2 linked regions of the Homo sapiens genome follow. The protein of the gene in region 2 purifies or fractionates together with the protein of the main gene of each other region. This does not show direct contact. Each region holds a gene or a part of one and is shown on either strand. Other genes may lie near its edges. The genes, in order: ATP6V1D and ARMH3.

Region 1 (3,818 bases), on a different chromosome or scaffold from region 2:
AACACTATAGGAGCATGCTACTAAATACAGTTTCCCACAAGAATACTATTCTAAATATAACTACAAAGGAAGCTTTTAACCAACCTTCACTTCACTAGCTTGATGCCCCTTATTCCCTTTGAAAATCATACTGCCTGATGCCCAGAGTACGATGACACTCTGTGAACAGGTGACTCTCTCTAGAATGCTCTACTTCTTCGTATGAAATGTACTTAATATTCTATATGATTTAATTAAATATCACATGAAGCAAGGAAATACAAGTGCCAAAAGAAAGAATATTATTTGTTTATTTATTTATTGAGATGGGGTCTCACTCTGCCACCCAGGCTGGAGTGCAGTGGTGCGATCTCAGCTCACTGTAAGCTCCACTTCTCAGGCTCAAGCAATCCTCCCACCTCGGCCTCCCGAGTAGCTGGGACCACAGGCGCATGCCACCAGGCCCAGCTAATTTTTGTAACTTTTTGGGTGGAGACGGGGTTTCACCATGTTGCCCAGGCTGGTCTCAAACTCCTGGGCTAAGGTGATCCACCTGCCTCAGCCTCCCAAAGTGCTGGGATTGCAGGTGTGAGCCACTGTGCCTGGCCAAGAATATTGTTTCTATGAAAAAAGTTAATACTTTACTTTGGAAAGAAAATATGCTGTCAAACTAGGAATGGAATGAATAAGACAGTTATTTAAAAAGTGGAAGTGGGCTATAAAAATCTAGAAAGAATCAGCATTCAGGTTGCATCAGTGTCTAAGATCTTATTTGACTTTAAAGAGACCCAAACTGGGAATTATAAGCAGTGCATTGTGGGTGTAGGATATGCAGAAAAACAACACAGAAGTCTAATCAGTGAATTCATATTCAAAAGGCCTTATATTTTTTAAATAGCAAGTGATTCTACATTGATATATTTCTGATAAAATATTGAAATATTTTAAGATATGTATAATGTTTTATGACTTCCTAGCATAAGACCTTTTTCTTTTTTGAGACAAGGTTTTGCTCTGTAGCCCAGGCTGGAGTGCAGTGGCGTGATCAGAACTCGCTGCAACTACCTCCCCAGCTCAAGCAATCCTCCCTCCTCAGCCCTGGAAGTAGCTGAAACTACAGGCACGTGCCACCACACCTGGCTGATTTTTTATATTTTTTGTAGAGATGGAGATTTGCCTGCCTCAGCCTCCCAAAGTGCCAGTATTACAGGCATGAGCCATTGTGCCCGGCCTTAAGACCTTTTGATTAACTGATCAACTATTGTCCTGACTATATCAAATAAGAGGATTTCTAACTCAGGAACCTCTCAACATCTAGCACCATTTTCCAGAACTTAGTTCATTTAAAGAGGAAACAGGAAATCCCAGAGACACAAAGTAATACAAAAAGTTTCACACTTACTGTCAGTTCCTTCATGGTAATGTTCAAATACTGGCAAAGTAACACCTGTTAAACACAGAAGCATACATGGATTCATAAACCTTTAAGTTCTCTCTTTTTTTTTTTTTTCTGAGACGGAGTTTTGCTCTTGTCGCCGAGGCTGGAATGCAATGGCGTGATCTCGCCTCACCGCAACCTCTGCCTCCCAGGTTCAAGCAATTCTCCTGGTCAGCCTCCTGAATAGGTGGGATTACAGGCATGCACCACCACACCCGGCTAATTTTGTATTTTTAGTAGACACGGGGTTTCTCCATGTTGGTAAGGTTGGTCTTGAACTTCCGACCTCAGGTGATCCACCCGCCTAAACCTCCCAAAGTGCTGGGATTACAGGTATGAGCCACCGCGCCTGGCCTAAATTCTGTTTCTTAATCACTGTTTTCTGTGTTTCTTTTTCATCAAACTCAAAAATCAAGAGCTTAAGTATGGAATTGTAATTGGTTTCAATTAATGAATTTAGGAACTTGCCTTCTTTTTTTTTTTTTGAGACAGAGTCTCACTCTGTCGCCCAGGCTGCAGTGCAGTGGTGTGGTCTTCAGCTCACTGCAACCACCGCCTCCTGGGGTCAAGTGATTCTCCCACCTCAGCCTCCTGAGTAGCTGGGACAACAGGCACATGCCATGCCCAGCTAATTTTTTTTTTTTTTTAAAGATGAGTTTCGCTCTTGTTGCCTGGGCTGGAGTACAATGGCGCAATCTCGGCTCACCACAACCTCTGCCTCCTGGGTCCAAGTGAGTCTCCTGCCTCAGCCTCTCAAGTAGCTGGGATTACAGGCATGCGCTACCACGTCTGGCTTATTTTGTATTTTTAGTAGAGACAGGATTTCTCCATATTAGGCTGGTCTCGAACTCCCGACCTCAGGCGATCCGCCCACCTTGGCTTCCCAAAGCACTGGGATTACAGGTGTGAGCCATCACACCCGGCCTAATTTTTGTATTCTTTGGTAAAGATGGGGTTTCACCATGTTGGCCAGGCTGGTCTCGAACTCCTGACCTTGTGATCCGCCCACCTCAGCCTCCCAAAGTGCTGGGATTACAGGTGTGAGCCACCACATCCAGTGGAACCTGACTTCTTTATTTTTTTATTTTTTATTTTTAGACAGAGTCTTGCTCTGTCACCCAGGCTGGAGTGCAGTGGTGCAATCTCGGCTCACTGGAACCTCCGCTTCCCGGGTTCAAGCGATTCTCCTGCCTCAGCCTCCCAAGTAGCTGGGGCTACAGGCGCGTGCCACCAAACCTGGCTAATTTTTGTATTATTAGTAGAGATGGGGTTTCACCATGTTGGCCAGGCTGGTCTCGAACTCCTGACCTTGTGATTCGCCCACCTCGGCCTCCCAAAGTGCTGGGATTACAGGCATGAGCCACCGTGCCCAGCCGGAACCTGCCTTCTTAAGTGTTCACTTCTATACAAAAGTCAAGTTATCCTGAGTAATTAGAAACCTGGTTGTTAATGATTTTAACATGTAAAGCCAATCAACTTGTTCTAAGTAGAAGGAAGAAACTAGGACATTAAGATCTTGCTGTATAAACAGGTTAATTTTAAAATGTCACCTCTTTTCTCCCCAAAGGGTTTCTAAAAGGTTGAAACGTTACCTGCTACATTATCTTTCTTCGCTCGAATCTTCACTTGCGCTTTATTGACATTTTGGATAACTGTAGTGCTGCAGAAAAAGAGAAAGACTTTATTTAGCAGACTCTTCAGAAATAAACCTACAGGGACCCACTGGATAGTTTTAACATTAAATGAGACCAAGAGTGAGATGTCACAATTAAGTATGTTTTGATAACTGTCCTTTTTCCAAAAAGGGAGAAAAGTCATTACTGCTAGAGGAGGGCCTCTGAAAGCAGAGAATGAACAATATTCAAAACATTAGCAGTAAGAAAAGAACAAAGAATGATTTTAAAGTTCGTGGATTGCTTATGTTTTCAGTCAGAGGTGTGCTACATGGATATAACTTTAAGGATTCTTCTGCTAGTGTGAGATAGAGAAAACTCCTTTCTAGGTTTGCTATTGAATTGGTTAAGCTGGCGTTCAATTCCTTTACCCTGGAAACTATGTTCCATCTGGCTTTGTGTGACTTCTCAAATGTTACCAGAAAGTGCCTTCCTGGCAGGGTGCGATAGCTCACGCCTGTAATCCTGGCACTTTGGGAGGCCGAGGCAGGAGGATTGTTTGAGGCCAGGAGTTCAAAACCAGCCTGGGCAATGTGGTGAAACTCAAAAATACAAAAATTAGCCAGTCTCATAACCCAATCTCAAAACAAAACAAAAATAAATATTATAGAAAGTATCTTCCCCATAACCACCCTAAAACACTCACATACCACTTATACACTATTGATTGATCTCCACCCTCTGCTAGAAAATTCAATGCAAGCTGTGATCTTACCAGCACTGGCAAA
Region 2 (3,818 bases):
CATATCTTTGATTACAACAGACCCCTGCGATCACTATATTCATGTGTCGGCTCCCTCTTCATGCAGTGTGCCTAGAAGTGATCATGCGGATATGTGCAGAATCCACATTGTGGTTTGTGCTTATTACCTCTTCTGAAAAGATGTACAGATCCAGGCCAGAAAATGTTCCCTAACACTTCTCCACATGCAAATGTGTTTTTCTTAAAGTATACACAGACCATGAACTTTCTTTTTTTTTTTTTTTTTTTCCCAGACAGAGTCTTCGCTCTGTCGCCCAGGCTGGAGTGCAGTGGCACAATCTCAGCTGACTGCAAGCTCCGCCTCCTGGGTTCACGCCATACTCCTGCCTCAGCCTCCCAAGTAGCTGAGACTACAGGCGCCCACCACTGCGCCCAGATAATTTTTTGTATTTTTTGTAGAGACGGGGTTTCACCGTGGTCTCGATCTCCTGACCTTGTGATCCGCCCGCCTCGGCCTCCCAAGGTGCTGGTATTACAGGCGTGAGCCATGGCGCCCGGCCTACACAGACCATGAATTTTCTAACATTCAGTTCTTTAAAATAGATTTGTACACATTAAATGTGTACATATTTGTACTTACATATAGAGATCCATAGGAAACTCCTTCATCATGTGTGTTACAATAAACTCTACCATCAGGTCTGAAAGGGGAATAGAGAAAAACTGGATCAATTACAATGGAATTCATTTCTTGTCTTTGAGTTGGAAAAAAAGCTTCTGAGTACACCTTGCACTCACACTGAACGGCATCCACTAACCACATCTTTATTCATATACACTTATTTTATATAACGCATTTTGTGTAACACTGTTCACCACCTGCCACTTGTAAAGTAATAAGAAATTATTTCACTTGCTGACCTCCAGAAGGATACCCTGACCTGCCAATAAATTCAGATAAATGGAAAATTTCATTGTATAGATATTTCATCCCATGGCATTAATGCAGACTGCCAAAGGGAAATCATATTCTGAGACTAGACAATGAAGCAAGCTCTGAGAAGAAATTATGGATCACATTTGTGTAACCAGAGACTCAGCTCTAAAGCTATGTCAGTCAATCTCATCTTACTATCATGCTCAGTTAGACAGATATTGACTGAAATGGGCTGTGGGGCTTTGGGTCAAGAGAGGCTTATTATACAGCCTTAATTACTGTTTCTAAAATTAAGTAGATTTAGAAACTGGGGCTGAATATCCAAGTGAAATGGGATTAAGAATTCAGCTAATTCCCTGAGGAAAATGCAGAATTCTGGACAGACAAAATTACCCAAGATACAGCCCCCTACCTGTCAACTCAGTCAGCCTCATCTCAGTTTAATATACTCAGGGGAAGTTTTGTATATGTAAACCATGAACTTCAAGCCTCCTGGCCAGCCAGCACATCAATTCAAACCAAGAAAGGATGGGAAGAATTTGAAATCTTTTTTTTTTTTGAGATGCAGTCTCGCCCCAGCTGGAGTGCAATGCCGTGATCTTGGCTCACTGCAACCTCTGCCTCCTGGGTTCAAGCGATTCTCCTGCCTCGGCCTCCTGAGTAGCTGGGATTACAGGCGCACGCCAACACGACCAGCTAATTTTTGTATTTTCAGTACAGACAGGTTTTCACCATGTTGGCCAAGCTGATCTCAAACTCCTGACCTCAAGTGATCCGCCCACCTCAGCCTCCCAAAGTGCTGTGATTACAGGTGTGAGCCACTGCGCCCAGCCTGAAATCTTGATCATGTATCTTGTAAATCATGTATCAAGTTTAGACACAGCCATTTGTCTCACTGGAATGACTTTTTTCTTTGAACAACAGGACCCTTTTATTGACCACTCTATAACTGGGGTTGCTTTACCAAACACAACAATAAACATGATTCTTAGGCCAGGGAAAAAACACAACTAATAATTTATTTGCGGAAGAAGCACATCAAACAGGTTCTACTCTTCATCTTCATCATGAAAGCCTATCGCTGTCACAGAACAATGTCAATGTTGATGATACTCACTCACCCAGTACTGCACATACTAAAGGACGGCAGGGAAGATTCTTGTCTGCTGCCTTCTTCCTGTGTCTCATAGGCTTCACACCAAAAAAATGAAGAAAGGAAATTAGTAGACACCGGCACTGACATCCAATGGCCCATCATCATGTTCCTTGTGCAAATAAAATCACTATTACAGGGATACTTCCTTTTCTTTCTCTTTTTCACATGGTGGGAGAGGAATGAGGTAGCATGGGATGAGGCGGGGAAGGGAGGACTTGTGAATGCTTCAGTTATCAATGCACGCCTGTTACAAAATTACAATTCACAACCTCAAAGGGCACTAGAGAATACTACAATGGGAAAACTGTTGGTTTTACTTTGCTTTTAGTTATATAAGTGGCATTACTAACGACAAAAGAGGTACACTGGTGTTTTTCTTTGACGATAAATAATAATAATAAAAAAAAGAGGAAGTGATGGTGCCACCTATAGAAGCAGCAACAGTAGTAGTTGCAAAAAAATAAAGAAAGTTTTACATCTAAACCTCAATGTAATTTTTTTTTTTTTTTTGAGACGGAGTCTCGCTCTGTTGCCCAGGCTGGAGTGAAGTGGCACGATCTCGGCTCACTGCAAGCTCTGTCTCCTGGATTCGCGCCATTCTCCTGACTCAGCCTCTTGAGTAGCTGGGACTACAGGTGCCTGCCACCACACCCGGCTAATTTTTTGTACTTTTAGTAGAAACGGGGTTTCATCCTGTTAGCCAGGGTGGTCTCAATCTCCTGACCTTGTGATCCCGCCTTGGCCTCCCAAAGTGTTGGGATTACAGGTATGAGCCACCAAGCCCGGCCCTCAATGTGATATTTTTTAACATACCTCCAAGCTTTAAGAAATTCCCTGATCCTCCATATTCTATTTGCCCACTTCTCAGATGAACAAATCTGAGCAGCAGCTAGTCTTAGCCACTCAAAAATTATACTACATTTTGAAAACAAAAGGCTTAGAACCATTTCCTTGCTGAAACCTATATTATTGAAATCCAGTATCAGGCCAGGCGCGGTGGCTCACACCTGTAATCTCAGCACTTTGGCAGGCCAAGGCGGGCAGATCATCTGAGGTCAGGAGCTGGAGACCAGCCTGGCCAACGTGGTGAAACCCCATCTGTAACGAAAATACAAAAATTAGCCGAGCGTGGTGGCAGCCACCTGTAATCCCAGCTACTCAGGAGGCTGAGGCAGAAGAACTGCTTGAGCCCAAGAGGCAGAGGTTGCAGTGAGCAGAGATCACACCATTGCACTCCAGCCTGGGGGGGAGAGAGAGAGAGAGAGACTCTCCCTCAAAAAAAGAAAAAAAAAAAAAAAGAAATCCAGTATCATTGCCACGCTTGTGAATCTTCCAAAACTCTTGATTAAGAAACAGCTCCATGACACACAAAAATCCCAACAACAAGCATGGGTCTGTTGAACAGCCGTCATGCAAAGCCCTTTGGCACAACTTTCCACCCACATTTGTTCTAGTAAGATCAATTTCATCCCAACCCTGCCGACATACAAAAAATTTCCTCTAAGAAAAAACAAGAAGCAAAAGAAACACCTACCATTCTATGTAAGTTTACTCGAAAATTCATGTTGTCATCATGCAAAAATGCATTGGCATATTGATCCTAATAAAAATATAGAGAAAAAGTAAGAAGCGAGAGCTATATTTAAGAAACTGTAATCTATCACACTTCGTACAAATCCTTGGACTTTGAGAACTACTTTCAAGGATCAGCTGGACAGCTAATAGGATGAGCCTAGAGCCTTATGTCAAACCCTACTTAAGCCAT

What was found.
Region 1: the proteins of ARMH3 (region 2) and ATP6V1D fractionate together in Homo sapiens (co-fractionation; one large-scale study listed by BioGRID). This does not show direct contact.

Annotation. Positions count from the first base shown.
Region 1 is NC_000014.9:67,346,028-67,349,845, forward strand, and holds part of ATP6V1D (V-type proton ATPase subunit D), read right to left. Parts: intron 3,078-3,818; coding exon 3,010-3,077; intron 1,427-3,009; coding exon 1,382-1,426; intron 1-1,381. UniProt on the Homo sapiens protein: Subunit of the V1 complex of vacuolar(H+)-ATPase (V-ATPase), a multisubunit enzyme composed of a peripheral complex (V1) that hydrolyzes ATP and a membrane integral complex (V0) that translocates protons.
Region 2 is NC_000010.11:101,989,951-101,993,768, forward strand, and holds part of ARMH3 (armadillo-like helical domain-containing protein 3), read right to left. Parts: intron 3,654-3,818; coding exon 3,588-3,653; intron 2,089-3,587; coding exon 2,019-2,088; intron 662-2,018; coding exon 601-661; intron 1-600. UniProt on the Homo sapiens protein: Involved in GBF1 recruitment, Golgi maintenance and protein secretion.